Linked DNA regions of Homo sapiens. The protein of the gene in region 3 interacts with the protein of the main gene of each other region in a pairwise test. Each region holds a gene or a part of one and is shown on either strand. Other genes may lie near its edges. The genes, in order: DNAJC1, KCNJ9, TMEM201 and PTPN5.

Evidence for each region.
Region 1: the proteins of TMEM201 (region 3) and DNAJC1 interact in binary tests that used the Homo sapiens proteins (3 or more experiments, as listed by UniProt).
Region 2: the proteins of TMEM201 (region 3) and KCNJ9 interact in binary tests that used the Homo sapiens proteins (3 or more experiments, as listed by UniProt).
Region 4: the proteins of TMEM201 (region 3) and PTPN5 interact in binary tests that used the Homo sapiens proteins (3 or more experiments, as listed by UniProt).

What each region holds. Positions count from the first base shown.
Region 1 is NC_000010.11:21,881,715-21,888,744, reverse strand, and holds part of DNAJC1 (dnaJ homolog subfamily C member 1 precursor), read left to right. Parts: intron 1-6,305; coding exon 6,306-6,463; intron 6,464-7,030. UniProt on the Homo sapiens protein: May modulate protein synthesis.
Region 2 is NC_000001.11:160,077,609-160,084,559, forward strand, and holds the start of KCNJ9 (G protein-activated inward rectifier potassium channel 3), read left to right. Parts: upstream 1-3,929; 5' UTR 3,930-4,089; exon of another isoform or gene 4,090-6,251; coding exon of another isoform or gene 6,252-6,422; coding exon 6,423-6,951. UniProt on the Homo sapiens protein: Inward rectifier potassium channels are characterized by a greater tendency to allow potassium to flow into the cell rather than out of it.
Region 3 is NC_000001.11:9,598,906-9,605,935, reverse strand, and holds part of TMEM201 (transmembrane protein 201), read right to left. Parts: intron 4,832-7,030; coding exon 4,482-4,831; intron 3,868-4,481; coding exon 3,664-3,867; coding exon of another isoform or gene 3,645-3,663; exon of another isoform or gene 987-3,644; intron 1-986. UniProt on the Homo sapiens protein: Critical regulator of angiogenesis and endothelial cell (EC) migration. Promotes the migration of endothelial cells, which is essential for angiogenesis.
Region 4 is NC_000011.10:18,727,407-18,732,807, reverse strand, and holds the end of PTPN5 (tyrosine-protein phosphatase non-receptor type 5), read left to right. Parts: intron 1-105; coding exon 106-216; intron 217-2,989; coding exon 2,990-3,150; intron 3,151-3,241; coding exon 3,242-3,355; intron 3,356-3,780; coding exon 3,781-3,874; coding exon of another isoform or gene 3,875-4,497; 3' UTR 4,498-4,880; downstream 4,881-5,401. UniProt on the Homo sapiens protein: May regulate the activity of several effector molecules involved in synaptic plasticity and neuronal cell survival, including MAPKs, Src family kinases and NMDA receptors.

The DNA.
Region 1 (7,030 bases), on a different chromosome or scaffold from region 3:
TTTGTGCTCATAAGTTCTCATAATTTAGCTCTCACTTGTAAGTGAAAACATATGGTATTTGGTTTTCTATTCTTGGTTTAGTTTGCTAAGGATAACAGCCTCCAGCTCCATCCATGTTCCTGCAAAAGACATGATCTCATTCTTTTTATGGCTGCATAGTATTCCATGGTGTATATGTACCACATTTTATGGCTGCATAGTATCCCATGATGTATATGTACCATATTTTCTTTATCAAATTGCTAATTGATGGGCATTCAGGTTGATTCCATGTCTTTGCTATTGTGAATAGTGCTGCATTGAACATCTGTGTGCATGTGTCTTTACGGTAGAATGATTTACACTCCTCTGAGTATATACTCAGTAATGGTATTGCTAGGTTAAATAGTAGTTCTGCTTTTAGCTCTTTGAGGAATCACCATACTGTCTTCCATAATGGTTGAACTAATTTTCACTCCCACCAACAGTGTATAGGTGTTCCCTTTTCTCCATAACCTTGGCATCATCTGTTATTTTTTGACCTTTTAGTAATAGTCATTCTGACTGGATAGAGATGGTATCTCATTGTGGTTTTGATTTGCATTACTCTAATAATCAGTGATATGGAGCTTTTTTTCATGTGCTTATTGGCTGCATGGATGTCTTCTTTTGAAAAGTGTCTGTTTATGTCATTTGCCCACTTTTTAATGGGGTTGTTTGTTTTTCTCTTGTATATTTATTGAAGTTCCTTATGGATCCTGGATATTAGACCTTTGTCACATGCAGAGTTTTCAAAAATTTTCTCCCATTCTGTAGGTTGTCTTTTTACTCTGTCGATAGTTTCTTTATGCTGTGCAGAAGCTCTTAAGTTTAAATCTCAGTTGTCAATTTTTGCTTTTGTTTCAATTGCTTTTGGTGTCTTTGTAATGAAATCTTGGCCCATTCCTACATCCAGGTTGCTATTGCCTGTGTTGTCCTCCAGGTTTTTTATAGTTTTGGGTTTTATGTTTAAATATTTACTCCATCTTTAGTTGATTTTTGTGTATGGTGTAAAGAAGGGGTCCAGTTTCAATCTTCTGCATATGGCTAGCCAGTTATTCCAGCACCACTTATTGAATAGGGAGTCCTTTCCTTATTGCTTGTTTTTATCAGCTTTGTCAAAAGTCAGATGGTTATAGGTGTGCAGCCTTATTTCTGGGCTCTCTGTTCTGTTCCATTGGTCTATGTGCCTGTTTTTGTACCAGTACCATGCTGTTTTGGTTATGTAGCCCTGTAGTATTGTTTGAAGTAAGGTAGTGTGATGCCTCCAGTTTTGTTTTTTTTGCTTAGGATTGTCTTGGCTATTCAGGCTCTTTTTCATTTCATATGAATTTTAAAATAGTTTTGTCTAGTTCTGTGAAGAATGTCGTTGTTAATTTGATAGGAATAGCATTGAATCTGTAAATTACTTTGAGCAATATGACCATTTAAATGATACTGATTCTTCCTATCCATGAGCATGGGATGTTTTTCCACTTGTTTGTGTCTTCTCTGATTTCTTTATTTGAGTTTTGTAATTCTCGTCATAGAACTCTTTCACCTCCCTGGTTGGCTGTATTCCTAGGTATTTTATTCTTTTTGCGGCAGTTGTGAATAGGATTGCCTTTCTGATTTGACTCTAGGTTTGGCTGTTGTTGGAGTATAGGAATGCTAGTGATTTTTGTACATTGATTTGTATCCTGAAACTTTGCTGAAGATGTTTACCAGCTAAAGGAGCTTTGGGCCGAAACTATGGGGTTTTCTAGATATAGAATCATGTCAATTGCAAACAGGGACAGTTTGGCTTCCTCTCTTTTTATTTGAATGTGCTTTATTTCTTTCTCTTGCCTAATTGCTTCAGCTAGGACTTCCAATACTGTGTTGAATAGAAGTGGTGAGAAAGGGCATCCTTGTCTTGTGCCAATTTTCAAAGGGAATACCTAGTTTATTGAGAGTTTTTTTTAACATAAAGGGGTGTTGAATTTTATTGAAAGCTTTTTCTGTATCTATTCAGGTAATCATGCAGTTTTTGTCTTTAGTTCTGTTTATGTGAAGAATCACATTTATTAATTTGCTTATGTTGTACCAACCTTGCTACCTGGGGTTGAAGAATACTTGATTGAGGTGGATTAGCTTTTTGATGTGCTGCTGGATTCAGTTTGCAAATATTTTGTAATTTTTGCATCACTGTTAATCAAGGATGTTGAACTGAAGTTTTTTTGTTGTTGTGGCTCTGCCAGGTTTTAGTATCAGGATGATGCTGGCCTCATAGAATGAGTTTGGGAGGAGTCCTTCCTCCTCAGTTTTTTGGAATTGTTTCTGTAGGAATGATACCAGCTGTTTGTACATCTGGTAGAATTCAGCTGTGAATCCATCAGGTCCTGGCCTTTTTTTAGTTGGGAGCCTAATTTATTACTGATTCAATTTTGGAGCTCATTATTGGTCTATTCAAGGAATCAATTTCTTTCTGGTTCAGTCTTAGGAGGGTGTATGTGTCCAGGAATTTATCCATCTCTTCTAGGTTTTCTAGTTTGTGTGCATAGAGGTTTCTGTAGTAGTTTCTGTTGGTTATTTTTACTTCTGTGGGGTCAGTGGTAATGATGACACCCTTCATCATTTCTAATTGTGGTTTTTGGGGTTTTCTCTCTATTAGCCTAGCTAGTAGCTTACCTATCTTGTTAAATTTTTTTTTAAAATCCATTCTTGGATTTGTTTATCTTTTGAATGGATTTTCTTGTCTCTGTCTCCTTCATTTCAGCTCTGATTTTGGTTATGTTTTGTCTCCTGCTATCTTTGCAGTTGATTTGTTCTTGCTTCTCTAATTCTTTCCGTTGTGATGTTAGGTTGTTAATTTGAGATCTTTCTGACTTTTTGATGTGGGCATTTAGCGCTATGAATTTCCCTCTTAACACTGCCTTAGCTGTGTCCCAGATATTCTGGTATGTTGTATCTTTGTTTTCATTAGTTTCAAAGAACTTCTTGATTTCTGCCTTTATTTCATGATTTATCTAAAAGTCATTCAGGAGTATGTCATTTAATTTCCGTGTAATTGCATTCTTTTGAGCAAGTTTCTTAGTCTTCTGTTTTTATTGCACTGTGGTTTGAGAGTGTGTTTAATACGGTTTTGGTTCTTTTGCATTTGCTGAGGATAGTTTAATGTTCAATTATGTGATCAATTTTAGAGTATGTGCCATGTGGCAAGGAGAAGAATGTATATTCTGTTGTTTGGGGGTAGAAAGTTCTGTAGAGATCTATCAGATCCATTTGGTTCACTGTTTAGTTTGGGTCCTGAATATCTTTGTTAATTTTCTGCCTCAGTGATCTGTCTAATACTGTCAATGGAGTGTTGAAGTCTTCAACTATTAATGTGGGTGAGTCTGTGTCTCTTTTTAGGTCTCTAAGAACTCGCTTTATGAATCTGGGTCCTCCTGTGTTGGGTGCATATATATTTAGGATAGTTAAGTCTTGTTGAATTGAACCCTTTGCCATTATGTATTGCCCTTTTTTTGTGTTTTTTAATCTTTAAATTAGGATTGCAACCCCTGCTTTTTTCTGTTTTCCATTTGCTTGGTAGTTTTCCCTTCATTTCTTTATTTTGAGGCTAAGGGCATCGTTACTTGTGAGATGGGTCTCTTGAAGACAGCATGCCATTGAGTCTTGTTTTTTTATCCAGCTTGCCACTCTGTGACTTTTAAGTGGGGCATTTAGCACATTGACATTCAGGGTTAGTATTGATATGTGTGGATTTGATCCTGTCATTGTATTGTTAGCTGGTTATAATGTTGGCTTGTTTGTGTGGTTGATTTATAGTGACACTGGTCTGTGTATTTTTGTATTAGCTTATAGCAGTATTTCATTTCTGTATTTAGTGCCCCTTTATAAATGCTTATTTAAAAAGACATCACTTGCAGTTGTGATGAAACACCCCAGAAATAAATACAAACAATTGAATTTATTTGCTTTTTAAAAAAATAACTGATTCTCTATATGTAGCCCAAATTACTTCTGCTATTGCTCTACTTCAATGGTGATTTCATACTTCTCATTGTAAAAGCATCATCAATAATTATTCAGTCATTTCTCCTAATAGTGTTTACTGTGTTAATAGTTTCATCTCTCTATGAAGAAATAGTAAATAGTCATACACACACAAATACATACATACCCACATACAGTTATATTTGAGTACTTTTGTTTCTGGGAGAATTGCTGGGGAAAAGGCTGTATATGTTAATTTTAATGGATATGTTTAGACTGCTTTCCAGAAAGGCTCTAATAGAATAATACATTTCCTCCACCAATTTAGAAGTAGCCTTTTCCCTGCCAACAGTACATCTGAATTAGATTTTAAATTTGTACCCATATGATTGGTATAAAATTATATCTTGGTATTACTTAATTTGTATTTCTTTAACCTTTAGAGTGTATGAGCCTCTTTTCTTATTTGTTAGCCACGTGGGCACTCAATTGTGGATTGCCCATTTATGACCTTTTGCCTATATTTTTCTATTGGGTGGTTGTCCATTTATAAAATCTGTTTATAGCAATCTTCTGTTTATACTCTGAATTGGATACATCCTTTCCAAATCTATTATTTGTCTCTTGATTTGTTTACTCTTTTATCTTTTTTGTAACAGCATCTGGGTTTTCATTCTTATTTAGATGTCCCCTTCCTTTAAATAGTACAAGTAGATTTTAAGATTTCTTTTTGCAAAATTTTTATTGTTTTGGCTTTTAAAGTCAACTCTCTTCTCTATCTGGAATTTATTTGTGTATACAGTGTAAGAGTTTTCTTTTAAATGGATACTCAGTTGTGTAAGCATTACTTAATAAATTGTTTTCCCACTAAATTGAAATATAGACAATCCTAGACTTATAATGATTTGACTTACAATTTTTTGACTTTATGATAGTGCAAAAACAATACTGTACTTTGAATTTGGAATCTTTTCCTGGACTAGCAATATGCGGTAGGATACTCCCTCATAATGCTGGGTAACAGCAGCAAACTGCAGCTTCCACTTAGCCATATGATCATGAGGATTAAAACTGATCCTCTACAGTGTACTGTGTCACTATGTTATTTTGCCCAACTATAAGCTAATGTAAATGTTCTGAGTACACTTAAGGTAGACTAGGCTAAGCCATGAAGTTAGTTTTATTAAATGCATTTTCTAATTAAGGATGTTTTCAATATATGATAGGTTTATCAGGATGTAATCCCATAATAAGTCAACAAGCATTGGTATTTACAGATTCTCTATTCTCTTCTAGGAATTTGTCTATTCCTATGCCAGTATATACTGATTTTGTTACATTGGCAGTATAGTACATGCAAATACACACATACACACGTACACATGGGGTGGTGAAAATACTCTTATGAGGCTGAGTTTGACTATAGTAATTAAGAATGGAGTTGCTTCTCAATGTCAAGTCTCCAGTTAAAATGGTGTGTGTGTGTGTGTGTGTGTGTGTGTGTGTGTGTGTGTGTGTTTGAGATAGAATCTCACTCTGTCACCCAGGCTGGAATGCAGTGGTGTGATCTTGGCTAACCCCACCCTCCACCTCCTGGGCTCAAGTGAGTCTCATGCCTCAGCTTCCCAAGTAGTTGGGATTACATGCATGTACCACCACACGCAGCTAATTTTTGCATTTTTAGTAGAAGAAGGGTTTTGCCATTTTGCCCAGGCTGGTCTCGAACTCCTGGCCTCCAGTGATGCACCTGCCTTGGCCTCCCAAAATGCTGGGATTAGAGCCGTGAACCACTGCTCCTAGGCCTAAAATGGGATTTAATAAAGAGCCCAATGGATGGCCATCGATTCATAACTACTCTTGATGTTGCCAGATCATATTTCACCTTTGTAAAATATTGAAAAATAAATGTATACCATTTAGTGAGAGCCAGGTTTTTTTTATAGATGAGAAAGTTGATACTGTTCTAAGTGTTAATTTATTTGCCCAGTATTATTTACTTATTACATGGTAAAGTTAGGGTTACAATATTAAATTGAAGCTCTTTTTATTGTGCCAAAATGAAATATTTTATGAAAAGTACTTTGAAAACAAAGGTGTATGCAAATTGATATGATGGCTATCTCATGATCATCTCCACAATAGTAGCAACTCTGAGTTTTATTTAGAAACAATGCAATGGTTTATGTACAATAAAAGTTATAGCCAATTATTTATAACAGAACAATTATATTTTGATGTTTTCTTTCAGGATATGGTCTATGAATAAAATGTTAGAAATTAATTTTATTCTTTAAAAATCTCAATAATTGGTTCTTTTAAACATTTTTTAGAACAGAAGAAAGTTAAAAAACCAAAACCTGAATTTCCTGTATACACACCTTTAGAAACTACATATATTCAGTCTTATGATCATGGAACTTCCATAGAAGAAATTGAGGAACAAATGGATGATTGGTTGGAAAACAGGAACCGAACACAGAAAAAACAGGTAAATAAGCTTTATAAAACTTGTTTTGAGTAAAACATGTACAGAAAAGCACATAAAATACAGGGTTAGCTCACGATATAGTGCTTTGTTTTATTGCACTTCACAAATACTATTGTTTTGTTTTGTTTGAGACAGAGTCTCGCTCTGTCACCCAGGCTGGAGTGCAGTGGCGCAATCTCAGCTCACTGCAAGCTCTGCTTCCCGGGTTCATGCCATTCGCCTGCCTTAGCTTCCCAAGTAGCTGGGACTACAGGTGCCCACCACCACGCCTGGCTAATTTTTTGTGTTTTTAGTAGAGACAGGGTTTCACCGTGTTAGCCAGGATGGTTTTGATCTTCTGACCTCATGATCTGCCCCCCTCGGCCTCCCAAAGTGCTGGGATTACAGGTGTGAGCCACCGTGCCTGGCCGGTTTTTTTTTTTTTTTTTTTTTTTTTTACAAATTGAGGGTTTGTGGCAGCCCTGAATTGAGCAAGTTTACGGGCACCATTTTTCCAAAAGCATCTCCTTCCTTTGTGTCTCTATATAACATTTTGGTAATTCTTGTGGTATTTCAAACTTTTCATTA
Region 2 (6,951 bases), about 150 Mb from region 3:
TCAACTGTCTGCTGTCTTCCCCATCATGCTTCCTCTTCCACTTGCCAGATTTTGCACAAGATGTCTCATGATCTTGTCCAGGGAAGCCTCCCCAGTTTGGCTGATCTCAGGGCTGCCACAAAGGCACCTGCTGATGGGGCAAGTTGAGGACTGAACTGCATTCAGCTTGCCAATTCCTGCACCCAGCTCAGAGCTGTGTCTGCTGGAGGAAGGGAACCTTTTATTTTCTCCCAAAAGTATCACCTGTTCCCTGTTCTCCAAGTGACAGGCCACAGTAGGCTCTTTTTAAGCTCTTTTCCTATTTTGCACCACGGTTCCTTTTTTTTTTTTTTTTTTTTTTTTTTTTTTGAGACAAGGTCTCACTCTGTTGTCCAGGCTGGAGTGCAGTGGCGCAATCACGGCTCACTGCAGCCTTGAGCTCCCAGGCTCAGGTGATCCTCCCACCTCAACCTCCAAGGTGGCTGGGACCACATGCACATACCACTACACCCATCTAATTTTGTATTTTTTGTAGAGACAGGGTTTCGCCATGTTGCCCAGGCTGGTCTCCATCTCCTGGGTTCAAGCGATCCGTGTACCTCAGCCTCCCAAAGTGCTGGGATTATAGGTTCGAGCCACCGTGCCAAGCCAAAAGCTAGAATCTTGTCTATGCTTTTGTGTCCTGGTGCCTGGGAAAACTTTTTTTCTCCTGCCTCAGTTCAGCTCAGTGATAAATAAGGAACTGAGGTTAGATAACAGGTAAAGTCTAGGACCTGCAGGATGAGTGAATCAGGTGAGGGAGTGGTAGTCTTCTTCCTTGTCAGCCAGGCTAGGTTCAGGGGCACCTGGACTGAGGCGAGGGGCTGGCTGAAATTGCCTTGTGGAGGGCCCTGCCAGTGATGCCCCCTCCAGCAAATAGGGCCAGCTCTATGCAAATGTGTTCTTGCCCAGGAGTTTGGTTTCTTCTCTCTGAGCTCCTGGCACAGTGGAACCAATGTGAGCAGCTGCTTGGCAGGACAGAGAAGGGCAGGCTAGCAGTCCCAAAGCTCGGGTGACAGGACCAGGCCCAGGAGACGGGGATGTTGACTGGGGCTTTAACAGCACTCTTGATGCCAATCTCGGGCTGAAAACTCGATATTTCCACTTGGAACAACAAGAATCACCAGCAAGAGAGCTGAGGAGAGGGCAGTATACCGGGGGCGCCCCCTGCAGGCCTCACAGGGTGGTGCCAGAACAGAGGAAGGTGGCACAGGCAGGGTGGGGCTTTCAGGACATCCCTGAGATGATGGTGATGACAGTGACAATGATGATGACCATGAAGAAGACAATGAGGAGGAGGAAGAGGAAGACAGTAGCTAGCATTTACTGAGTACTAACAATGTGTCAGGCATTGCCTTATGTAGTCTTCATGACAACCCTCTAAGAGATGAATAATATGGTTTTCTTTTTTTTAGATGAAGAATCTGAGGTTTAACGGGTTAAATAATTGCTCAGGTTCACCCAGCTAGTAGTGGACAGAGGTGGGATTTGAACCCAAGTCATTGCCTCCTGAGCTTATATTATCCAGTACCGAATTTCCCACCTTGCCAGGTCATTCCAGGAGCTTCTAGCCCTCCGTGTCCATCTCTATGTCTTCCTGCTCCTCTAGCTCATATTTTCTTGATCCAAATTTAAAGGATCTGGATAAGAATAGATCCATATCTGGGATATAATAATACTGATAACAACAGCAACAACACTTTGCGTTTGTAAACCACTTTCTTCTCTTCATTATTTCCCTGGGGAAAAATAAACAATAAGATATTTCTGTTTCTCCAAATTTTGTTCTGATTTTTATCAGTGTTCCTGAAGCTATTTCAATATAGTCATGATCAATTTCTAAGAATATTTTTAGGTTCTGCTTTTTTATGTAACAGTGTGTTATATACACATTCACATATTTAAACACAGCAATTATTATGGCTTTACAGTAACCCATGATATTAATATTCCACAGATATTACATTACTGAGGCACACTAGGCTAAGGCTGACAACACCAAATGCTGGCAGGAATGTGGAGCAACAGGAACAGGAATTCGTGGCTGATGGGAATGCAAAATGGTACAGCTACTTTGGAAGAAAGTGTGGCAGTTTCCTAAAAAACTAAACATACTCTTACCATACGATCCAGGAATCATGCTCCTTGGTATCTACCCAAAGGAGATGAAAACTTACGTCCACATGAAAATCTGCCGATGGATGTTTATAGCAGCTGTATTCATCATGGCCAAATCTTGAAAGCAACCGAGATGTCCTTCAGTAGGTAAATAGATAAATAAACCATGGCCATCCTGAAATGGAATATTATTCAGTGCCAAAAAGAAATGAACTACAAAGCCATGAAAAGACATGGAGGAACCTTAAATTTACATTACTAAGTGAAAGAAGCCAATTTGAAATGGCTACATATTGTACAATTCCAACGACATGACATTCTGGAAAAGGAAAATTATGGAAACAGGAAAAAGAGCAGTTGTTGCCAGGGGTTAGGGAAGGGGGATTGACTAGGCAGAGCATAGAGGACTTTTACAGCAATGAGACTATAATGGTGGATACACATCATTATATATTTGTCCAAACCCACAGAGTGTACAACACCAAAAGTGAACCCTAATGTCAGCTATGGACTTTGGGCGATTATGATGTCAATGTAGCTTCATCACTTGTAACAAATGTGCCATTCTGGTGGATGTGTGGGGACAGGGGGCATACGGAAAATCTCTATAACTTTCCTCTCAGTTTTGCTCTGAATCTAAAACTACCCTTTAAGAAGTCTTCTTTTAAAACAATTTACAAAGCATGAGGTGATACAGATGTGGGAGTTTGGCTCCTGTCTCTGCCCAACTCTGTGACATTCGATAAATTACTTAACATGTCTCTGTTTCAGTTTCCTCATCTATAACTGGGAAAAATAACACCTGTCTTATAGAGTTGCCATGGGGATGACATGAGGCATGTGTCTCGTTCATATCCCATGCTCAGTGAATTAGTAGCAGCAGCCACTGTGTGTTTGTGTGTCTTTATCCCTCCTGGGTTAATGAGCTCCTTGTGGGCAGGGACTCACCCATTCTGTAACCACCCCATCTAACACACTGCCTGGCACTTGGGCTCCGCAGAAGTTTGCCGAGTGAATACTTAGTAAGCCCTAACCTAGGCTTTTCTCTCTGGTGGACATTTGGGTTGTTTCTAGGGTTTTTGCTATGAATAAAACACATTTCAAAGCCCTTTGTGGTTTTTTTGGTTTTTGTTTGTTTGTTTTTTCTTCGTTTGATCTGCTGACTCTGTGAAGCAGGCAGAAAGGGGATATTTGCTCTTGTCCACACCCTGGTACAGATGGAATAACTGTGGCTCAGGGAAGTGAAGTGACTCCTATGGGACACAGTGCAAATCAGTGGCAATAATTAGAACCCCTGACCCTGCCTCCCTTCCTTTAGTAGATCTATTTTCCTTCTAGCTACCGCCTTCTGGATCCATGGCCTCTCCAAAACTAGACCATGATGGTCAGCCTGACCTGAGAGCAGCACCTGCACGCAGAGACCCATGTTGAAGGTGGTGAGCTGCCAGCTACCAGATGGCCCTCTGAAACCCCAGGGAACCTAGCACCTTATTCTCAAATACATGAGGGCTTGTATTTTCCCCCAGGAAGGAGCTTCTTAGGAAAGAGCCAGCGTGCCAGCTTTGTTTTTCTTTCTTCTTCTTTTTTTTTTTTTCCTATGAGGGGGTGAGGAGCCAAGCTCTGAGTTGTCCAGGAGGAGGGACTTTGGCTAAAAATAGCTATGGCGTGTGGTTTGGATCAACCCCTAGTGGTACCCAGGACTGGGGAGGGGAGGGGGATGCTCTGGAGCTGTCGCCAGACTGGTTGCCGTGGAAACAAGAGAGGAGCAGGGGAGCCTGGGAAGTAGGGATGACACAGATAGCAAGTCCTAGTCAGAGCTGCCGCTACATTTAGGAGAAACAGCGGTGTCTGCGGCTCCCACCCTTCGGGGGGCCCGTGGGGGGGGCGGTGTCAGGGGCATGGACGCCACCCCCCAGGGGTCTCTGCTGCCGGCTACTCTCCTCTCCACGTGCTGTGAGTTGAGTTGCGGGGGACTTGGGGTTTGGGCCCCTATTTCCAAGGCAAGTGGGGGTTTGGGAGGAGCTGGTTCTTGGGGGAGTTTTCACCAGGTCTCTCCTTCCAAAAAATGAGCCCCCTTACTCCCCAGCTCTCTAGAGGGAGGAAGAGGGGCCCAGGAAAAGTGGTATTGCAATCTTCTGCAAAGGGGTCATAGCATGCACAAGAAATGAGGAGTAGGTTGGAGGAACTGAAATTCTTGGAGGGAAGATGGAGAAATCAAGTCCTTGATCTTGAGATAGAGGTAACAATTTCACACTTTTCCTTCCCCTGAGAAAAGTGCAGTCCCCCACTCAGGAAGACAGGATGTGGGACACATTCAAAATAAGGTTTACCTAGATCCCTGGGGCAATGGAGAGTGAGAGAGTTCTGGGGGTGATCCGACATCGGGGTTCCTTCCCCATCCCTGGGCAGAGAGATCTGTCTAGGCAAGCCGACTGGGGGTCAGATTACCTAAGACCCTGAGAGAACATCTGGAAGCCCACCTGGGACTAAAGCTAGGATAATGGGAGCAGGGTCGTTTTCTGCATGACCTGGGGTCTCTGAGCCAGTCAATGCTTACTCTTCCTGAGGACATCTGAGCTTCAGGGAAGGAAAAGGAAGCCCATTGTTGGGGGCAGGGGAAACCCTAATCTTCCATTGCCATGGGGCTCTTGGACCCTGTGTCCCCTGACTCCATGGACAATAAATGCAGGGGGTGCCCCTAAGCTCAAAGCCATTTCATTTTGATTTCTCTTCCTACCTTCTCTACCCCAAGACACACAAACACACACACACACACCCTCTCCAGAGTGCTGACTGCAGAGGACCTCACCCCAGAACATAAGATGCTGGAGTGCTAGGTTTAGAGTCACATACCCAGGCAGTTTCTCCCCAGGACCTGGTCAACCATCCAGGCCATCTGTGGTTCCTATGGCACACTCCTCCATCCCCCACCCACTAGCCAGCCCACGTTTCCGTGGAGTGGGAGGAGAGGATCATTCCCAGGAAAGAGAAGGGAAGGTGGAAGAGTCCCAAATCCTATTCTAAACCTTTCCCTGTATGGTCCATATCTCCTAGAGGACCCTGGGTGCTTTGGGGAAGGGCTCTGGACCTCTCTCAGAGCAGATTGCAGCTCAGAGAGCTCCTCAGAGGCAAGCATGTGAAGAAAAATCAGGTGGGCTTCGCTTGGAATGTGGGCTTTGGGGCATATGGCAGGTGGGGGCGGGGCTGGTGTTAGGATAGTCCATGGGAAGTAAGAGGCTGGGGGAAAATATAACTAGAGGGAGTGGGGAAATAAATGTGGGTGCTTAGTGCTTCACCTGATCTGATTCCATGTCTCTCATGAAGAATAGGATCCCAGAGGGATACGAGCCTAACTCTTTATAACTCTGGGCTTCCTTTCCCAGGCTTCTGTGTTGGGATCTTCCAGTTCCCCTCCCCATTTGCAGGCTGTCTCCACTAGGAGAAAAAACCCAAGGGAAATGAGGCTGGCCCAAGAGCAGCAGTGATCGTGGGTAGGTCTCAGGGAGGATTTCTAGTGGGAATTTCCTAATGTTCCACCCTTGTGCACTGGAGGGTTTCCACTGACTTTCCACAGCTTTCATTTCTTTCTCGTTTGTAAGCATGTTGAGGGGAGGGAATGGAGCGGAGTGAGTGAGGTCCAAGGAGGGAAGAATGAGAAAGACTGTGTATCAGTCTTGGGGTGAACTTCAAAACAGCCTGCGAGGAGAGCCATTGGTGGCTGCACTGGCTACAGCTGGGGAAGGGATGGTGGAAGTCCTTAGGGCAGGGAGGGCTCCATTACCCGCCTGCCCCCCTCCCCAAAAAGCCCCCAGTCTATTGATTTCAGGAAATCACTAGGGGGATCTGGGCCTGGGTCTTTGGCCCCGGGGCTGCCCCTGAGGTGCTGCACACCCCAGCTGGAGGTGATGGCACCAAAATATCTGGTACCTCCTTCCCCTGAAAATCATCGTGGAACTTGCACAGTTCTATCCAGTTCAGGTACATCATTCCATTTGACCCTCACAACTTTCTGAGCCTGGGGGGCAGTTAGGGCTGAATGTGTTATTCCCAGAAATAGAGGCCAGGCAACACGAAGGGACTCGCCCAGGGCCCCCCAGGGCTCGGTGCTGGCCCTGATGCCCCGTGCCTCCCCATCTCCCGAGGGGCCACTCATTCGGCAAACCTTTATTAAGCCCCTCCAGGACCCCCGACGCCGCCTAGGCGCCCAGCGACGCGCGGCAGGTGGCAGCAGCTCGGGCCCCCGCCGCACTCCAGGCGCCCGCAGCGCTCGCCCTGACGCGGCCGCCATGGCGCAGGAGAACGCGGCCTTCTCGCCCGGGCAGGAGGAGCCGCCGCGGCGCCGCGGCCGCCAGCGCTACGTGGAGAAGGATGGCCGGTGCAACGTGCAGCAGGGCAACGTGCGCGAGACATACCGCTACCTGACGGACCTGTTCACCACGCTGGTGGACCTGCAGTGGCGCCTCAGCCTGTTGTTCTTCGTCCTGGCCTACGCGCTCACCTGGCTCTTCTTCGGCGCCATCTGGTGGCTGATCGCCTACGGCCGCGGCGACCTGGAGCACCTGGAGGACACCGCGTGGACGCCGTGCGTCAACAACCTCAACGGCTTCGTGGCCGCCTTCCTCTTCTCCATCGAGACCGAGACCACCATCGGCTACGGGCACCGCGTCATCACCGACCAGTGCCCCGAGGGCATCGTGCTGCTGCTGCTGCAGGCCATCCTGGGCTCCATGGTGAACGCCTTCATGGTGGGCTGCATGTTCGTCAAGATCTCGCAGCCCAACAAGCGCGCAGCCACGCTCGTCTTCTCCTCGCACG
Region 3 (7,030 bases):
CCCCCAGTGACCTGAGAGTACCGTTGGGGGATGTGTGAAAGGAGGGTCCTAGTGGGCTGTGGGTATGAGGTGGTCAGCTGGGCCACGCAGCTCCTGGCCCCAAAGGGTGGGCTCTAGCAGGAGTGGCTGGGTCTTGCCAGTGCATCCCCACTCCTCCCAGCTCCTGCTCACACCACCCGGGGCTGCCTCAGTGCTTAAAGGCTGAATCTCCTGGCCACCTGGCACAGGGGCTGTTGTTCCCAGTTTGGTGCCACTGAAGATGGTGCTGTGGGGAGTTCCTTCGCAGTTTGACTCCCTCACTGTGATATGTGGGAACATCACTCAACCAGCAAGACCTCGTAAATCGCTCACAGGGCTGGGCATGAGGGGCTGGGCTCTGTACAGGCGCCCCAGCGAGCCTCCGCCAGCTAAAGGAGCCCAATCTGTTGGACCCTGGAGAACTCCAAAGGTGCTAACATTTCCTTTGGCGAGAGACCCCCCCCGACTGCCCTGTGCCCTCAAACCACGTCTCAGAGAGGGACTAAGAGACCAGGATCAGGCCTGGATGCTGGCTCTGGGGAGTGTCAGAGAGGGACTAAGAGGCCAGGATCAGGCCTGGATGCTGGCTCTGGGGAGTGTCAGAGAGGGACTAAGTGACCAGGATCAGGCCTGGATGCTGGCTCTGGGGAGTGCCGGAGCGGATACGCTCATCTGACACCAAGGGGAGATGTCTGGTCTTCTCCGACCCAATCCCAGCCCACATCAGGAGTGGAAGGAGAGAGACCACGTTTTAAGCAACAGTTTATTGAGACGGAAAAAATATGATCCAGCAAAGGCGAGGAGGCGAGCCGGGCCCCGAGCCAGCTGGTGTCATTGTCACTGGCTCCCAAACCTGACTCCTGTGGACGTGTCTGTACCCCAAACACAGCTGCCCACCCCAGCCCTGGCACAGAGCCCTTCTGAAAGAAAGAAAAAAGAAGAAAGACGCGGCACCTGACGCCAGCGGGTAAAAGCAGGGCCCCAGAGGCATTTATTGAAAACACAGCATCCAAAACACGACATCTAGGCCAGGCGCGATGGTTACAGTGATGAGAGGGTCACTAGACAATTATCCACAATTCTACGACATGAGACAGAGACTCAGCAACAGTCACAGACAGAAGGGTCATGTGTTCCTTCCTGGGCAGGGCTGAATGTGGCAGGTGCGGCGTGGAGGCTGCGTCCTGGCGGTTTGCTCCCAGGCAAGGGGTACGGGGGGCCGGCTTGGCCTGGGTGGGGACCTCAAGTCTGAGGGTGAGGATGGCTGAATCTACCTCGCTTATGTCTCAGGGACGGTCACCCATACCTAGGATGACCCCAGCCAGACCCTAGAAGGTCTGATGGCCATCCCAAGTCCCCCGCGAGGAGAAGAGTTCCCTGGCAGGGGTGACACATTCCCGGTCAACAAGCCACAACACAGTGGTGCCTGCACTCTCTCAGCTGTTGCCACAACACTTGGTGCTGGAATTTTCTCCACGTAGTGAAACTTTTAAGGGACACATGAATAATTTAAAAAGTCACACAAAACTCTACGAAAGGCAGGAATCCTCACTCTGCTGAGAGCTACCTCCTGAGATGTCGCTTCCGGACCCCGGCAGAGGGCAGGAGCGACATCAGCTCGGCAGGAGGATCCTGGCCAGCGCGAGGGCTGGCTCTGGTTATTATAAATAATCTAATTTAAATACGCACATACACACAGATGTCCTGCTTCTACCCAACGCCAAGAAAAGCAGACATTAGCATCACACTGTCAACACTTCCTCGAGAACCGAAGATTCGAGACGCAAGCAACAGCATGGCCAGCCGACAGGACGCTTTCCCGTCCTGGCTCCACCACGTCCTTCTCTCAGATGGGCTCTTTGTGGGCTGGGGGGTGGCGTGAGTGCACAGGCAGGCGGTTCCCTGCCCCTCAGGTAGACACCATGGGGGGCCGCTTTGGCTCACCCGCCCCAACTCCTCACTGCAGAACCAGTGGGAAGCGTGGCCCCGACCACATCTTTTCAGAGGGGTTTTCTCACCTCACGCTCCACACAGAACAACAAGCTGAGCCCAGTAACGCTGGGGCCTTGTCTGAAGCCACGCAGGTCATCGGGCACAGAGGCCACAGAAGCCCCCGAGGGTCTCCCGATGCACCTGGGTTCCTCACTTGTGAAGCTGGGTGGGATGTGAGCTGCTACCCAATCACTGGGGTGGGGCAGCCTCTAGGACCCCCAGGCGTGGCAGATTCACAGCAGTGAGGCCTGGCACCTGCCCCCCCAACCCATCCCGGCAGACCCAGGTGACGGGTGTAACCCTCATGCACCTGTGATCTGCTCTTGCCTCCCCCGGGGTTCCAACGCACAGGAGAGAGGAGCTGGCACACCCTGGCCACATCTGGAAGGTGAACTCGTGCTCAGAGTGGCGAGTGGCAGGACATGTGGGCCCTGAGGGAGTGGGCAGCCAGAGGGAACATGCCCGGTGAGGGACGGCCTCGGGCCACTCTCGACTGGGACCCCTGGATAAAGCCCCCAGGCCGGGAACTTCCTCTGCACGTGGCAGCCCCTCGACTTCCAGAGTGTGTCCTCATGAGCCACCTCATGTGATCCCCACACCCACTGAGCTGGCACCCAAGGGCTATGGAGAGGGGTCCACCTCATTTCATAGATGGCAAACTGAGGCTGAGAACAGCAGGGGCCTGGCCAGGCCCTGCTACTGAGGAGCAGGTCTGTGGGCTGCCCCCTCACCTGAGTCGGAGGACAGAGTGGCGCTGGGCCATGGTGAGCAGGCACCTGCAGAGGCTCGTGACAGGTCAGGGAGGGAAAGGATGACAACGACCTGATGTCACTGAAGGCCTGCATACCCTGGGCCCCTTACCCTTGGAAAAGCTCAGATTCCCCAAGGTCAGCACAGGCTCCTACTGCCTGTCTCAGGTGGGGTCTCGCTCCCCAAACTCATGGCGAAGGCCAGGCTGGGCCCAAGAACTGCACTCTCCATTTCCGGGGACTCGGGAGGGTCTTGGAGCAGGAGGCCAAGCAGCAGCCAGAGCTGCAGCTCGGCCTCCTTCACGGCTCCACCACCTCCTGCAGGGCCGGTCCAGCCATAAGCAGGACCAAGGGGACAGACCACAGGTGCTCCTCAGGGGTGAGGCTGGGGCTCTCTGCTGCCCCAGCCTCACTCTGCTGCACGGTCAGGGCACGCCAGGGGCCCAGCCTGTAGCCACTGTCACCACCCCTGTGCAGAGGCCAGAAGGGAAGACAGCAGGACCAGGACCCTCACCCAACAGTGTCAGAGCCAGCAAACGGCGTGGTGAGAGGGGGGTGCCTGGAGCTGCCAGTAGGAAGCCATGGGCCAGAGCCTGTGTGGGCGCTGCCCACATTCCAGTCACCAGGCCAGTGAAAGGGCCATTGGCCAGAGAGGTGGCAGCAGTGGTGAGTGGCTACAGGGCACTCGGGGATGGCTGGTGGTGCCCGAAAGGAAAAGGCAGGGCAGACTGACTCTTCGAGGCAGTGGAGGGACTGGGCCAGGACCTGGGGCTGTAGGGTGGGGGTGGGAGGGCGTGAGCAGGTGAAAAGAGGCAGGACAGAGAGGGGCCCGCTTCGGACCTGGCAAAGCCTGGGCCTGAGCATCCGTGTGTCCTCCCCCCGCAGTCATGGCTGCTTCTCTGACCTTCGGGGCCGGAACCTCCGTGGGCCCGTTGCCTTCCTTGTGGCCACAGCCGCCGTGAAGCCAACCAGGCAGCACAAAGATGTGGTGCTGAACTTGAGCGTGTCTAGCCAGCTAGGCGAGGCGGCCTGCAGGTGCTGCTCAGCCAGGTGCAGCCCCAGCAGCAGGGCCCACAGGCAGGTGCAGAAGGCATCGATCCTCCGGAGCCTGAAAGGGAAGCAGCGGGGTCACCCCAGGGGAGGACAAGACCTCCTGGGTCCACGCCTTCCTTCCTGCCTCCTCTGTCTATACCTGGCCCTGCTCAGAAGAGTCCAGAGCCAGGGGACAGTGTGGGCTCGGAATCCCCTCACACTCACACGCTACCTGGCTCTGAGCAGGTGGGTCAGTGTTTCTCCTCAGCCTGTAAGTTCTAGCCTAAAACAGGGCTAAGGAAAATTCCTCCGAGTCGGTGAGCAGGGGCGACGGGGACACAGCACTCACAGGACATGCTCCCACTCAGGGAACCCCAGAGGCCCCCACGTGAGCCCCCACAACCCAGGAGGCAGGTGGTTATCGTCATCCTGATTTGACAGAGCCCGAGGAGGAGAGAGGAGGCAACCCGGCCCAGCCCACAGCGGGTGTGCACGGGGCTGGCTCAGAGGGCGTCTGCAGCCTCACCTCACCTACGACTCCCAGCCCCTGGGACCAAGCCTTGTACCAGTGACATGGTGGAGTTCAGCCTAGGGCTGTGCACCCAATGGGGTCTCTTGGCCCCCGCCCTAGACAGTAATCCAGCACACAGTCCCCTGCCCGCCAACTCCTGGCCCTGGCCCCATGCACACCTGATGCGGCCAGCCAGCAGCATTGCCAGCAGGCAGGTGAGTAGGCCCAGTGCCACGACGCCCGTCTGGTGGCTCTGCCCAAAGGCCCAGGCCTCACACAGCTTCTCCGCCATGTGCTCGGGGAGTAGGCCCAGCAACTGCCGCCAGCCCTCGGCCCCAGGGGTGGTGCCATTGTCAGGTGTGGCTGAGCCATTGCCACCAGGTGGCAGGGCCAGGGGCACAGTGGTGCCTGGGGCGAAGTGTCCGCTGGCCCCATACAGCGCGGTGGTCAGTAGGAAGGCGCAGGCCAGGAAGGCGAGGGCACGGAGCAGGATGACCTGGACCGGGGACTTCACGGCGGAGGAGAAGTTCTGCAAAGGAGGAAGAGAGGCGGGTTAGTGAGACGGCCACAGAGCCACCCCCAGCCATCACCGGTGCCAGTCTGTGCGGGGTTCTGGCCAGACCCATGTTCTCACACATCCTGGGCTTGGTTCAAAAACTCACCACTCAGTTCCACCGGCCCGCCTCACTTCTGGGCGGGGAGGAGTGCTGCTCTACCACCCTCTCCTTTTAAAGAAGACTTTCCATATTGTAGTGACCTTATTTTGGCTCACTGCAACCTCTTCCTCCTGGGTTTAAGCGATTCTCCTGCCCCAGTCTCCGCAGCAGCTGGGATTACAGGCGCCCACCACCACACTCAGCTAATTTTGTATTTTTTTTGTAGAGATGGGGTTTTACCATGTTGGCCAGGCTGGTCTTGAACTCCTGACCACAGGTGATCCACCAGCCTCGGCCTCCCAAAGTGCTGGGATTACAGGTGTGAGCCACCGCGCCCAGCCAAGTTGAGCCCCTTCCTTTACTCTGGGGAAGCAACATGCCCATGGGGCCACCTCCCTACCCTGCTCCCCAGGCCCCTTCATGTCATCCAGGGTGGGTGTCCCGGGAGAGTGACTGGTATCACCACGCGTTTATTATGTGCGTATCTGAGCATGGGTTTTAGGGGTGGCCCTCCTGTTTCTCAGCACTTTCCTGGCACTTGCATTCGTCCTCCTAGCAGCCTTGGTGGTGCACTCCTAAGCCCTGGACCCATTTACAGCTGTGGAAACCACACTCAGGGAAGCTGAGAAACTTGCACAGGGCCACGTAGAAAGCCCACATCTGGTATGCAGTGGCTCCAGGGTTTGAGCCCAAGACCATCTGGCTAAAACTAATTTTTATCATAGTACTCAGTTGATAGAATATTCTGGTTGTTTAAAAAATCTGGTATGGTAGCAAGGAGGTTAAGTAGTAAAATCTACCCCTACAAGGAAACTCCTATCCACCCCTTTGTGTCTCTAGATGTGACCTGGGTCTGATTGATATGTGGTTTCCAGTCTGCAGCTGGGACACAGCCGTGCTACCTCTGCCCTGCCACACGTCTGCACAGCAAGGCACCAGGTGGACCCTCTCCTGGGGCCTTTGGTTCTCATTCTGTCTGCCTTGTTCCTGGTCTGAATAACTTACTACTGTACTTTTAAGGTTAACTTTTGCCACAGTTATCTGTCCATTTATGTCAGCTCCAATTAAAATCACAATAGGGGCCGGGCGCAGTGGCTCACGCCTGTAATGTCAGCACTTTGGGAGGCTGAGGCGGGCGGATCACGAGCTCAGGAGATTGAGACCACGGTGAAAACCCGTCTCTACTAAAAATACAAAAAATTAGCCAGGTGCCTGTAGTCCCAGCTACTTGGGAGGCTGAGGCAGGAGAATTGCGTGAACCCGGGAGGCGGAGCTTGCAGTGAGCCGAGATCACGCCACTGCACTCCAGTCTGGGCGACAGAGCGAGACTCCGTCTCAAAAAACAAAACAAAACAAACAAAAAAACCTCACAATAGGAATTTTTGGTGAGAACTTCACAAAATGATGGAAACAGTTATTTGGAGGCCGGGTGCGGTGGCTCAGGCCTGTAATCCCAGCACTTTGGGAGGCCAAGGCGGGTGGATCATTTGATGTCAGGAGTTCAAGAGTTCAAGACCAGCCTGAGCAACAGGGTGAAACCTCGTCTCTACTAAAATATAAATATTAGTCGGCTGTGGTGATGCGTGCCTGTAATCCCAGCTACTCAGGAGGCTGAGGCAGGAAAATTGCTTGAACCCGGGAGGAAGAGATTGCAGTGAGCCGAGATCGCGCCACTTCACTCCAGCCTGGGCGACAGTGTGAAACTGTCTCAAAAAATAAAATTTAAAAATAAATAAAAGGCTAGGCATGGTGGCTCACGCCTGTAATCCCAGCACTTTGGGAGGCCAAAGTGGGAGGATCACCTGAGGTCAGGAGTTCAAGACAAGTCTGGCCAACATGGTGAAACCCCACCTCTACAAAAATATAAAAATTAACTGGGCATGATGGCGGGTGCCTGTAATCCCAGCTACTCGGGAGGCTGAGACGGGAGAATCGCTTGAACCTGGGAGGCAAGGTTATAGTGAGCCGAGATCGTGCCACTGCACTCCAGCCTGGGTGACAGAGCAAGACTCTGTTTAAAAAAAAAAAAGGACGGGTGCAGTGGCTCACATCTGTAATCCCAGAACTTTGGG
Region 4 (5,401 bases), on a different chromosome or scaffold from region 3:
GCAACCCTGTTGCCCTTGTGTATCTCTCCGCTGGCCCTGAAGAGAGTGTAGAGAGTTGTGGGAAGGGAACAGGATTGTATGGCAGCCTGATCTGGGCCCCTGCAGAAATGCACCGAGTATTGGCCGGAGGAGCAGGTGGCGTACGACGGTGTTGAGATCACTGTGCAGAAAGTCATTCACACGGAGGATTACCGGCTGCGACTCATCTCCCTCAAGGTGAGGCCTGGGGCAGGGCTGGGTGAAGCTGAGGATGAGTGTAGGGGCTTAACTGGGGGCTCCACAGAGAACAGGTCCCCCAAGTCCACTGTAACTGACATAAAAGCCAGTGTCACTCCCAGATTTTCTGATAATTACGGATGAGTGAGAGGTGAATGGACTTGGGAGCCAGAGGTAGAATCAAACCCCTTGCATTTCCCAGTCCTCAGTTACATTTCATGCTGTTGGGCTCTCTCTGTCTCTCTACTCTGTCATTCATAATGCATTCTAGCTATGCTTCAAATGTACCCAAGGCCAGGACTGTCTGGATGAGGGGACTTCAGCAGCCTCCAGCACTGTGCTTATAATTGAGGGTTCATCATGACTTTGAGATCCTCCTTAGAAACATCTCTTCACCTGGGATCCTGGGCTTCTGGCCTGTAGTGCCCAATCTGTCCACAAGAGGGCAGGCACTCTTTGCTGCTTTGGGGTTGTACAGGGGGCTGTGGTTACAGAAAACAGCAAGAAAAAGGAAGACACACAAAATATGAGCAATACAAAACAGCCCAGAAGAGTGGGAGAAGGTATCCTCCCACCCTGAAGTTGTGCTTCCTCCAGGATCAGCATAATAGAGGAGACTGTTCCTTTGAAATCGGGATTAGTGGATTCTGTTTGTGAGAAATAAGACCCATGTTTAGGGAAGGCTGTAATTGTAATAACCCCAAAGGCTGGAAGAGGTGAACCAGGCATCAGGAAGCTGATGCCCTATCCAGGAGCAGCCAAGGAAGTTCATTGATGCTGACAGCCACAGGGGTTACTGAGCACAAGACCGGAGACTTGGCCCTCTGAGCTGTTCCCTCTCCCACTGAATAGGGGCCAGGTAGGGTGTCGAGAGCATCTCAGCCCCCAAGAGCAGTGCCCCCACAAGCAGCTCTAAGATCCAGGTCTTGTTGGAGGGCATGAAGGGCCAGGAAGTGAAAAGCAGAAGTAGTGGTCACTGTCACAGCCAGGTAACTCAGGACTTGAGAAAATGGCTTCCTGAGTAGAAATTCCCCAGAAAGACAGGCTGAGATGAGGCAGGGCTGCTCACCTTCTCAATGCCATGGAGATGATGAGGGAAGAACCAGGGCATCTTGGAGTTTGAGGGAATTTACTTTTGTCCATAAGACATTACGAGCACCTGGCCTGAGCTTGGTTCTGGGTTGGATACTGTGAACACAGAGCTTCCCAAAGCTTGGACTCTTTCCTTGAGAAGCATTGTATAAGATGGTAAGTACTGAGCTAGAGATAGGTATATAGAATATAGGATATGTATATCATATGATGTTATATTGGATGAATATAGGATATGTATATCATATATGTATGTATATATGATATACATATCCTATTATACCTATATATAAAATATATATAATATAAATATATAATATATAAAATATATATAAAATATAAATATATATATAGGTGTGTGTGTATATATATATGTATAAAAGAAGGACACTCTGCCAGCTGATGTGCTCAGGGAGGGCTTCCTGTACATGGTGGTGCTGAATGGGGTCTTGAAGGATAAGTAAGAGTTGACCAGGGGCAAACAAGTCAGGAGAACATTCCCAGTGAGAAAATAATAAAAGTAAGGACATGGAAGATGGAACACTTGTGTGCATGTATGTGTGCACATGTGTTTGTGTGTGCTGCTGAGATTTTACCTACAAACCTTTTGGAGTGTGGGAGCATTGAGTACAAGTACGCAGGGGCAGGAGGTGTGTCTGGAAGGGCAGGCCCTGTAGCAGTTGTCTTCCTAGCCAGGTGAAGGACTGAGGAGAGTGGGTCTTATTCTGAGAGCAGTGAGAGACATTGAAGGATGTTGTGGTCTGCTCAGGCTGCTATAACAAAATACCATAGACCAGGTAGCTTGTAAGCAACAGGTTTATTTTTCACAGTTCTGGAGACTGGGAAGTCCAAGATCAAGGCACCGTGACCCTGGTGAGGACCCACTTCCAGGGTCATGTCCTCACGTGGCAGAAGGAGTGAAAGCTCCTTTTGTAAGAGCACTGATCCCATTCGTGAGGGCTCCGTTCTCATGACTTCATCACCTCGCAAAGGCCCTCCCTTCAAATACCACCATGTTGGGATTTGGTTTCAACATGTGAACTTAAGGGGACACACACATTCAGTCCAAAGCCACAGGTTTTCAGCAGGAGAGCAGCATGTCCAGATGTGTGTTGTACACAGACTATTTTGACTCTGTGGATCTGAGACAGTTGGGGATGAGGCAGAAATCTCCCACACTCGAGCAATGATAAAGGTCAAGGTGGCAGTGAAGCGGGGAGTGTGAAGAGGTGGTAAAACTTGCAGCACTAATTGCAGCACTAAGATAGAGGCGAGTCACGCAGGCGCAGGCGAGGCACAGCAAGAGGCGAAGAAGAGTCCCGGGGCTGGGTTATGTGACAAAGGGATGACTGGGGGACCATTTGTTAAGATAAGGAACCCTGGAGATAGTAATAAATTGGAGAAGGGGCTCTTGGCCCCTCTTGGATGATCCTGAAGTTGTTGGGGCAGGACCAAAGGCAAGATCCATGCCAACGCTGCTGACCAACCCCCAAAACCAAGCTGGCTTTGGGTCTGTGTCTGGTGCCACTGGGCAATGTGGCCTAGATGGAAGGGTGAAGGGGTCCCACTCTCAGTGTTCTTCCTGTGTTCTTCCTCCTTCCATCTCATCTCTATCTCTGGGCTGGTTTGTGAGCTGAAAGAGTTCACACATACCTGGGGTGGGCCTCTGTCTCCTCGACAGAGTGGGACTGAGGAGCGAGGCCTGAAGCATTACTGGTTCACATCCTGGCCCGACCAGAAGACCCCAGACCGGGCCCCCCCACTCCTGCACCTGGTGCGGGAGGTGGAGGAGGCAGCCCAGCAGGAGGGGCCCCACTGTGCCCCCATCATCGTCCACTGCAGGTGGGTCCTCCCAGCCAGCCACTGGAGCGGGGCAGCCCCCCACCCGCTGGGCTGCCCTGCCCCTCACCCCACCGGTCCCCTCGGCCCTCAGTGCAGGGATTGGGAGGACCGGCTGCTTCATTGCCACCAGCATCTGCTGCCAGCAGCTGCGGCAGGAGGGTGTGGTGGACATCCTGAAGACCACGTGCCAGCTCCGTCAGGACAGGTCAGCCCACGGGCGGGAGTGGGGACACACAAGGGAGCTAGAGCCCCGAGCGGGTAGAGGGAGAGACCCACATGTGCATGGGCGGGGGGTGAGGGGCAGATGGAAAACACTGGCACGGACTGATGGGCAGACAAGGAGTAGCGAGGACAGCTGGGTAGAGGGGCAGGATCCAGACAGTGGGGGGCCAGATGAAGAGGGAAGAAAAGCAGAGCTGGTGGATAAAAGGACAGAGGCCGAAAGTGGTAGGACATGTCATCTGTGTCCCTGATAGGAAGGGGCAGAGGGTAATGGTTGGCAAGGGTTGGTCTCTCCAAGACGCACAGGGGCAAGGCCTGGCAAGTGATTGCTACTCCATGGCTTTTGGGGCACCTCCCACAGCCCATCCCTCCACGACCCTGCCCCCACTGTGCATCTCTGCCGGGCAGGGGCGGCATGATCCAGACATGCGAGCAGTACCAGTTTGTGCACCACGTCATGAGCCTCTACGAAAAGCAGCTGTCCCACCAGTCCCCAGAATGACTGCGCTTCTCCTACAAGGTTCTCTGGGCACTGCCCAGCCTGAGTCTCGGCCCTCACCCAGGGCCCTGCCTCGGGTCCTGGGCCTGCTCCCCGCTTCCTCCCCTTCAGTCAGCTCCCTCTGTCCTCTGTCAGCCTGGCCTGACCCCTACCCTCCAGCATTGCTCTTCCTACTGTACATATTGGGGAGTGGGGGGCAGGGTCGGGAAGGGACATGCCAGGCCAGGCCTGGGGCCCCGGGGCCTGACCCACACCACGCAGACCCCGGGCTCCAGTTTTTAACGATGGTTCCATCAATACCTGATCCAGAATGTTTCCGTGCTACACTTTGTGTCCTGCTGCAATGTGTTCTGTCTGTCCATCCATCTCTGCCCTCTGTACCGGACACTGTGTCTCCTCAGCCAGGAAGGGGTAATGAGCTCCAGCCCCTAAGCAACCGGACTTGCCTGCCTCGGCCTCACCCGCACTTCTCCCAAAAGGCAGATGACGGGGAGTTAGGCATGGGGAGCTCCAGAAGGTCACCAGAGAGCTTTCAGCTGAGGGAGAGTTCTCTAGGTTGGAGTGGGCATCACAGCCAGGGTGGCCTCTGGGTGTCAGATGCTCTCAGGAGGGTGCCCAGCCTGTGAGGCACTGGCAAGGTAGGGGGCAGATGGGGCATGGAGAACCCAGAGGATCTAGGCCCTGTTGGGGAGGGGAGGGGAGCTCAAGGTTTGGGTGGGGACTCAGCCCAGATCTACGTGAGACATTTTTCTGTGTCACTGTGGGAAAGCCTTCCCAGAAGTCTCACTGCGTGTTGCTCTGCGTGTGTTCCCATGTCCATGCGTGTGTTGAGAGCCCATCAGGAGGGCATGCATGACTCTTTGGCAACATGTATTATCTTGGAGCCACGTGTTTTTATTGCTGACTTTAAATATTTATCCCACGGCAGACAGAGACATTTGGTGTCTTTTTATAATTCGCTCGTGGTCATTGAATAGAGCAATAAACGGAGCATTTTGAGCAAAACTAACCTCCTGGGTCTGTGTGATTTGCCTCTCCCCTCCACTGCCTTCCTTCCTGTACTTGGGTCTTTGTGCCCCTCCCCAGCATGAGCACAGTGAGCTTGGCCCTTCTGCTCACTGGAGCCCCTTGTGGAGACTGGGAGTATGGAGCGAGTCCAAATTTGTAAAGCCAAACTGGGAACATTCTGCAGGATTCTCACACAGCCTCAGCCCTGGCCCTGACACATGCTCTGGGCCATGGGGAGCCTCAAGGACAGGTGTGGAAGGCTTCCAGGGAAGGCACAGTGGCTGGCAGGTCACCATTTCCAACAGATGTGCCAGAGAAGCCAAGGCTAGGGTAAGGAGACATTCAGGTCACACCCAGGCCCCTCCCTGTTGGCCAAACTCTTATCCCATGTTAGCTCCACAGATCCCAACAGCAGCTGCAGCCCAGTAATTTCCCTTGTAAGGCCTGGGCTCAGAGTAGCTCCTCCCAAGGGGCCCAGGGAATCTGCATGTGGGCTGAGATCCTGAGCCATCCTGGACACTC